Linked DNA regions of Homo sapiens. The protein of the gene in region 1 interacts with the protein of each later gene in a pairwise test. Each region holds a gene or a part of one and is shown on either strand. Other genes may lie near its edges.

What was found.
Region 2: the proteins of SLC67A1 (region 1) and TLCD4 interact in binary tests that used the Homo sapiens proteins (3 or more experiments, as listed by UniProt).

What each region holds. Positions count from the first base shown.
Region 1 is NC_000011.10:2,919,250-2,922,801, reverse strand, and holds part of SLC67A1 (solute carrier family 67 member A1), read right to left. Parts: intron 3,496-3,552; coding exon 3,395-3,495; intron 3,086-3,394; coding exon of another isoform or gene 3,044-3,085; exon of another isoform or gene 1,012-3,043; intron 701-1,011; coding exon 599-700; intron 367-598; coding exon 246-366; intron 1-245. UniProt on the Homo sapiens protein: May act as a transporter of organic cations based on a proton efflux antiport mechanism. May play a role in the transport of chloroquine and quinidine-related compounds in kidney. Plays a role in the regulation of lipid metabolism.
Region 2 is NC_000001.11:95,144,601-95,148,418, forward strand, and holds part of TLCD4 (TLC domain-containing protein 4), read left to right. Parts: intron 1-3,818.

The DNA.
Region 1 (3,552 bases):
CCCCTGGCCTGCCCCCAGCTGGGCTAGGTGGTAGGGCAGGAGTCTCATGCAAGACCCAGGCTCCCCACCTTACTCATCCCACACAGACCCCAAGCCCCCACCCCACCCACTCCACTCAACCCACACAGACCCCAGGCCCCCCACCCTACCCACCCCACACAGACCCTAGGCTGCCCACCCCATCCCCACCGGGTAGCTCCTAGGGCTTCCTGGAGGAGGCTGCTCCACTCGCTGGCCACACTCACCTGTGTCCGAGGTGGAGACAGCCTTGATCAGCATGCTGTCGGTGACCACGTTGAGGGTGCAGAGGCTGAACACCAGGCCGGGCACCAGGAGGCAGAAGTGGAAGACGCTGGACATCCAGGCCTGGGACGGCAGGCGGGGGCCGAGCTGAGTGGGGGCCTCACGGGACCAGGCTCCTCTCTGGGGTCTTACCTGTCCCTCCCCACCCTGACTGCTGTCCCTGCTGAAGAGCTGGCCCCGGGTGGGTGTGGGGGGCTGGAGGAGTCCCCAAGGGCTTAAGCACAGATGGTACCGCCCAGGTGGCCTTGCCCAGTGAGAGGGTCAGGTGAGTGGGCCCAAAGCGGGGAGCCCTCACCATGGCCAGGCCCACCACGATGAAGACCAGCACGCTGGCCCGGAGCAGCACCTCCTCCGAGAAGTGGCTGCTCAGCTGCCCGATGACCAGGCCCTGGGTCACCTAGAGCCAGACAGAGAGGGTAGAAGTGGGTATGGGGGAGGCGAGGGAGGGGCGTCTGGACTGTGGCCAGCCCCCAAAGCTGGGGACCTCCAGACTGGCCTGTGGTGGCCAGGGCCCCTCTGCAGAGAAGGCCCCTCAGCATCTGCAAGCCCCGGGGTCTCTCCCTACTCCGCCAGCAGTGACTGCGTCAGGATGGGTCTGAGATCCCTGAGGAGTCGGGGCTCCTCTCCACAAGGGAGGAAGGAAAGGCCCACACCAGGGACACCGGGGATGGGCTCGGTGGGACAGGCTCGGCCGCAGGCTGCTCCCGGGGATGGGCTCGGTGGGACAGGCTCGGCCGCAGGCTGCTCCCGGGGATGGGCTCGGTGGGACAGGCTCGGCCGCAGGCTGCTCCCGGGGATGGGCTCGGTGGGACAGGCTCGGCCGCAGGCTGCTCCCGGGGATGGGCTCGGTGGGACAGGCTCGGCCGCAGGCTGCTCCCGGGGATGGGCTCGGTGGGACAGGCTCGGCCGCAGGCTGCTCCCGGGGATGGGCTCGGTGGGACAGGCTTGGCCGCAGGCTGCTCCCAGGCCAGGGCGAGGCTCTCTATCTGGTCATCTCAGCTCCTCCACTAAGCAGGGCGTGCTGGGCCAACGCGCCTGGGAGTGCAGGGGTGGCCCCGGCTGGAGGAGCCCCTGGGCTCAGTATCTGCCCACAGGGCAGGCCCAGCCTGCAGCACCTCTGCAGGGGACCAGTCACCCTCCCAAATTCCTGCCAGGCAGAACAGAAACTGCTTCCAACCGGAACCATAAATGGTTTAAAAATCTTACTTTCACACTTGCTTTATCTTAGGGTTTTTTGGGATTTTAACACCTTTTTTTTTTTTTTTTTTGAGATGGCGTCTCGCTCTGTCGCCCAGCGTGGACTGCAGTGGCGCGATCTCGGCTCACTGCAAGCTCCGCCTCCCGGGTTCACGCCATTCTCCTGCGTCAGCCTCCCGAGTAGCTGGGACTACAGGTGCCTGCCACCAGGCCCGGCTAATTTTTTTTTTTTTTTTTGTATTTTTGGTAGAGACGGGGTTTCACCATGTTCGCCAGGATGGTCTCAATCTCCTGACCTTGGGATCCGCCCGCCTCGGTCTCCCAAAGTGCTGGGATTACAGGCGTGAGCCACCGCGCCCGGCCTAACACGTTTCTTAAAGGAAGAGCTGGCAAGCTCACTTCGTGCAGTGCGTCTAAGAGGGGCTCACAGTGAGTGCCGTGAAGGACTTCAGATCCAGGACTCAGACACCAAGGTCAGAAGCCTATTTGTGTTGCGTCTCAGTTTGCCCATTAAGTTTAAAAAAGCTTGAACTTAGGAGCCCTGCAGGTTGTGACATGAACCTGGAGCTAACAAGCTTGTCCCTGACCGGACTTGGGGTCTGGGGGCTACTCTGCGGGCCCCCTCCTTCCCCTCCTCAGCCTCCTCTCCCGCTGCTCAACCTGTGTCGGGGTCCCCATGCCTCACCCTGCTCCTTCCCCGTCCCTGGGCAGTTCACCAGGCCCAGTTCCTGCGAGGGTGCCCCGACGGTGTTGGTCACCACCCCAGCTCTGTCTGTCTCAGGCAGGGTCCCCACTGCAGCCATGGCAGGCCCAAGTCCCCCACAACACAGGCCAATGACTGCTGTGTCCAGCCCAGCTGCAGGCTTCAGCCAGGGCCTGGCTAAGCGTCCTTCCTCGCAGTGAGCTGGGCGCAGCCTGTTCAGAACAGGCCCCATGGCAACAACCCCGGATTGTTACTATTATTGTTGCTGTTGTTTTTCTGTTTATCTCTTTTTACCCTGCCAGGGTGGCCCCTCCTGCCCCAAAAAGCAGAGGCCCTCTCTGCCCACGGTGGGGGTCCAGCCCCTCCCAGGAGCAGCTATTTTAGCACTAGTCTAGTCCTGGGCCCAGAGGCTGAAGAGCAGATGGCTTGGAGGTGCCAGGAATGCCACAGGCTTCCGGAGAGGCCGAGAGCCCCCACCCCCACCCTGGCGGGTCCCAGAATAGCCCCCCCGCCCCGCACTCTGGCTGTCAGGCAGCCATCCTGGGTGGTGGCAAATCATCACCTGTCCCCACCACCCAGGGTCTGGTCCAGAAGCCCAGAGGAGCTGGTGGTGGAGGTGTCTCGCCCCGGCCCGGGAGCTGAGCGGTTCTGGGGGGCTGGCAGACAGACACCTGCCGCATCGGAGCTGCCAGGGTTTCAGGGCATCCTTCCATGACAGTGTGGCCTCTGAGGGCTGGCGTCTTATCCTACCATGACAGCGTGGCCTCTGAGGGCTGGCGTCTTGCTCCTATGGGACCTCCAAAGGGGCCCACGCTGGTCTAACCACTTTGCCACGTTAGGTCATCTCATCTGCCAAGGACCCTGCAAGGCGGGCACTTTGGCCTCATGGGACAGATTTGGAGAGTTTGGGAGACTTGCTCTGGTCACACAGCTGGTGGGCAGGTGGGCTGCCACAGATCCCAGCCAGCTGCCCATCAGAGGCCGGAGTCCACTGTCCTCACAGCGTGCCCACCACTGCAGTTGGCTCTCCCTCCCTGGCCTGTATGCCTGGTTCCCTGTGGACCCTGACATGTGCCAGATGGGAGGCCAAGGGCTCCCCAGCCTCCGCCGGGGAGGAGCCTCTACTCTCAGAGGCCTGCCCCACTGGAGACCCCTGCCGTGCCCCCCAGCAGGCCCTGTGTGCCCACTCACCATCTGGAGGAGCCCGAAGAAGGACATGAGGTAGCCAGCTTGGGCGGCCTCCAGCTGGAAGAAGTCCATGGAGATGATGGAGAACATGACCATGAAGAGCCCTGAGCCGGGGCAGGGGAACAGGGGTGAGTACCCCCACACCCCGACCTTGGCGCCCA
Region 2 (3,818 bases), on another chromosome or scaffold:
TTTTTTTAAACAGAAAAGTAAATGGAGAAAGAATTAGACATCTATTGATATAGAAATCTGCTGGAGTTTTATTTTTTATTTTTATTTTATTTGTTTATTTATTTTTTTGAGACAGAGTCCCGTTCTGTCGCCCAGGCTGGAGTGCAGTGGTGAAATCTTGGCTCGCTGCAACCTCTGCCTCCCAGGTTCCAGTGATTCTCCTGCCTCAGCTTCCTGAGTAGCTGGGATTACAGGCATGCGCCACCATGCCAAGCTAATTTTTGTGTTTTTAGTAGAGACAGGGTTTCACTAGGTTGGCCAGGCTGGTCTTGAACTCCTGACCTCAGGTGATCCACCCACCTTGCCCTCCCAAAGTGCTGGGATTACAGGCATGAGCCACTGCACCCTGCCAGAGTTTTAAAAAGTTGGTTGCAATTTTTTTGTGTGTGTACAACTTATTAATCTCACAAGATTTCAAACACAAAATGGCTCTGATGACTTCTTCACGTGCTTTAGAGCATTTTATGTCCCCAAACATCACTGTGCATTTGTAAACCTCAGTGAGTCAGAGCAGCCGTGGCCTTATTTTTTGTTGTTGCTATTTAGTTGAAGTTAATACTAACCATAAAATGGATTCAGCAAGTCTCTAAAGTTTGCTATAATTATCTTTCATTGAAATTTCCTTTTAAAATTCAAGAAATTCTGTCAGTGTCTGAGTATTTATTTGAGAATGGTCATATTTGATTTGAAATTCCCTTTGAACCAAATTGTTTTGCAGGCATCTACTTTTATGATTCAGACTGTGAATTTAATAAGACTCTAGTTGTTTTTTTTTGTACTTTACAGTGATGTATCGGGTTCATACATGTCAAAGTTCTTTTCACCCAAAAAGCAAGAATTATTTCTCCACATATTTTCAAAAAATAAGCAGTATGATTATTTTGTCTTAAGACTAGCACAAAAATATTGTTCAAATGCATTATACTAGAGATACCATTACTTTAAAAAATCTTTTCTAACATATGAAGATAGATGGAATGGTAGGAAAGAGAAGGGGGTACATACGTTCTCTGATTAAATGTTGAACTATTTTCATTTCCTCTTTCCTGTGGTTAGGATAGGTAAAGGCATTTGAATGTTAGGTAGCTGCAAGTCAGAGAAATAGGAAAGGGTACAGAGAGATGGAAGCCAAGATGAAAATGAAATGAAATTGAAGAATATTTTGCATTATCTAGTCTTATCACTGCCATTCTATGACACAGGAAATACCATTTGGGAAACTGAATTTCTATTTGAAAAAGGAGTCTGGGATTATATAAAATTCATTTAGGTATTCAGTGGTGTTTTCTCTTTTTCTCAAGTTTGCTCCTGCTTCTCACTCCAGCTTTTTTTACAAAGGACTTAAGCTGTAAGGTGGAGAGTGCAAAGTAGGACAAGGAGGCTGTATTTTGAGTAAAATATGTATAAATGTCTTAAAATTCAGCTTCCAGTTTGAAACATACAGGTAAACACACATAATTCTTTCTAGTGATCAGGAAAGAGTCTCTAAACATGAGTTGAGAGTGGTCTGAGCCATCTAGTATAAAAAGAAATGGAGGAGAAAAAATCACTGGAAATGCCCATTTGAGAGACAACAGTTTAGTTAAAAGTGAGAAATTGTTGTACTGAATTGTTACTTTTTCTGAAAACGTGTATACTTACAGGTGCTACATCTTATAATGTAAAAAAATTTTCTTAATTACTTATATTCACTTTCTTACCTATCACATTGAAAGTCTTATTGTGTTGAAATACTACTAATTTTTAAATGTTTCTCTAAAATTTAGCTGAGTTATATAATTTCTGTTGGCAATATTTACACTACTTGTGATTAGTAACTTAAAATTGCTATTCTAAAATAGTCATTAATCATTTCCTTAGAGTGCTATCCCTTTATATGCACAAACATTTCTTTTCCACCCTCTTTGAAAAAAAATTGAAATATTTTATCTTGGGTAATATCTTGGAATTTCTTTTTAGATACTAAGGAATCTAAATTTTCCTTTGCTAGGAATCTGATTTTAAATAATAAAATATAAAATTTTTATTAACAGAAGTTTCTGAAACTATAGTATAGACTTTTAATACAGAATAGTGTATGAGTGAGGGCAGGGTATTTGTTTTTCCTCCTCATTACAGAGGGAGATATTTGATTGGACCAAGTAATATTTAACTTTTCTGTACTGAATCATACACCATTTCCATCAGCTGAGGGCTTAGAATGCTTTCCATTTACCACATAACATCTCAAAAGAGAAGTGAATCTGAGGCCTGAGTGTCAGAAATAAAAAGTTAGGTTTTTCAAAAGGGAGCTTTCTGACTATGGTTACCAAACAGTAAAACAAGTTTGTAAGAGAGATTATATATTTTTAAATTTTATATAATTTTTGAATAGCAATAGAGAGTGGGCTGTATGACCATTTAAATGGAGTATTTTATTTTATATCAAGGAATTTAATTTTTTTTTTTTTTTGAGACAGAGTGTCGCTCTGTTGCCCAGGCTGGAGTACAGTGGTGCAATCTCCACTCACTGAAACCTTTGCCTCCCAGGTTCAAGTGATTCTTGTGCCTCAGCCTCCCGAGTAGCTGGGATTACAGGTGTGTACCACCATACCCAGCTAATTTTTGTATTTTTGGTAGAGATGGAATTTCACCATGTTGACCAGGCTGGTCTCAAACTCCTGACCTCAGGTGACCCGCCCACCTTGGCCTCCCAAAGTGCTGGGATTACAGGTGTGAGCCACCATGCCCGGCCAAGGAATTTACATTTTTATCCTGTGCTCAAGGTGTGCTTGGCATGAAAATTATAGACTTGTAAACCAGATAAATTGGATTAATTATTCACATTTCAAAATGATTCTTAGGTATTATAAATGATACTTGGTCAATGCCTTTAAATTGGTGAGAATCTTTGCTTATTTAAAATATGGCTTGATTTAGCATGATACATCTATTTTGTAACACACTATTAGGTCAAGTATATTGGTTTCTAAAGTTACAATGAAATTTTCTGATACCAAACCTAATATTAGTTGATATATTTTACTTTTAAAGATTTGGGATCATATTGTAGAGAAAAATTTATTGCACACCAGTAATTTTTAGAGAGAAAACTTTGCTGTACCTCTCATTTTTTATCCTAATGAAGTTTCATTACTTGTGAACTTCTCAATAAAGATGTGAGAAATCTGAAATTGTTGGGTAAAAAAACTTTATTGTATGGATGAATACACAGTATCCTAAGTATAGTTCTCTAAGTAACATAGAGCTTGGGAATTAGTCACATCATTAAATTTATTAACAAGATATATTCATAGAAACTTATGGTTTTTATGTTAAACTTATTCCTTCTATACAAGAAAACTTGACCTGGATCTTGAGAACATTGTGCTTTCACTTGGGTATTTCTTTTAAAAACAAATTTTCCGTATACATTTATGGTCCTCAATTTTTCTATTTAGAAATGTTTTCATAATAATGATAAAGAGGGACTAATAATAGCTACCCTTGTTTTCTTACAAATTTGTTACAAGAATCAAGTGCAATAGTGCATGTCAACGTACTTTAAAAACTGAAGCCTCCCAAGATAATAAATCTTCATATCATGATCCATTCGAATTGTTTTAAGGATATGGAGTTTGTTAAAGCCAGTAGATCTGGAAGTCATTCCCAGCTGATTGGAGCAGGAAACTTATCCTGCATTGATGCTGTTGGGGCTGGAGCTTGGAGCCAAGGGTAGTGGCCTTGCCAGTTGCCATCTGGCTGCACAAAAGTCTGTCAGCTGCATCATCATGTATGCA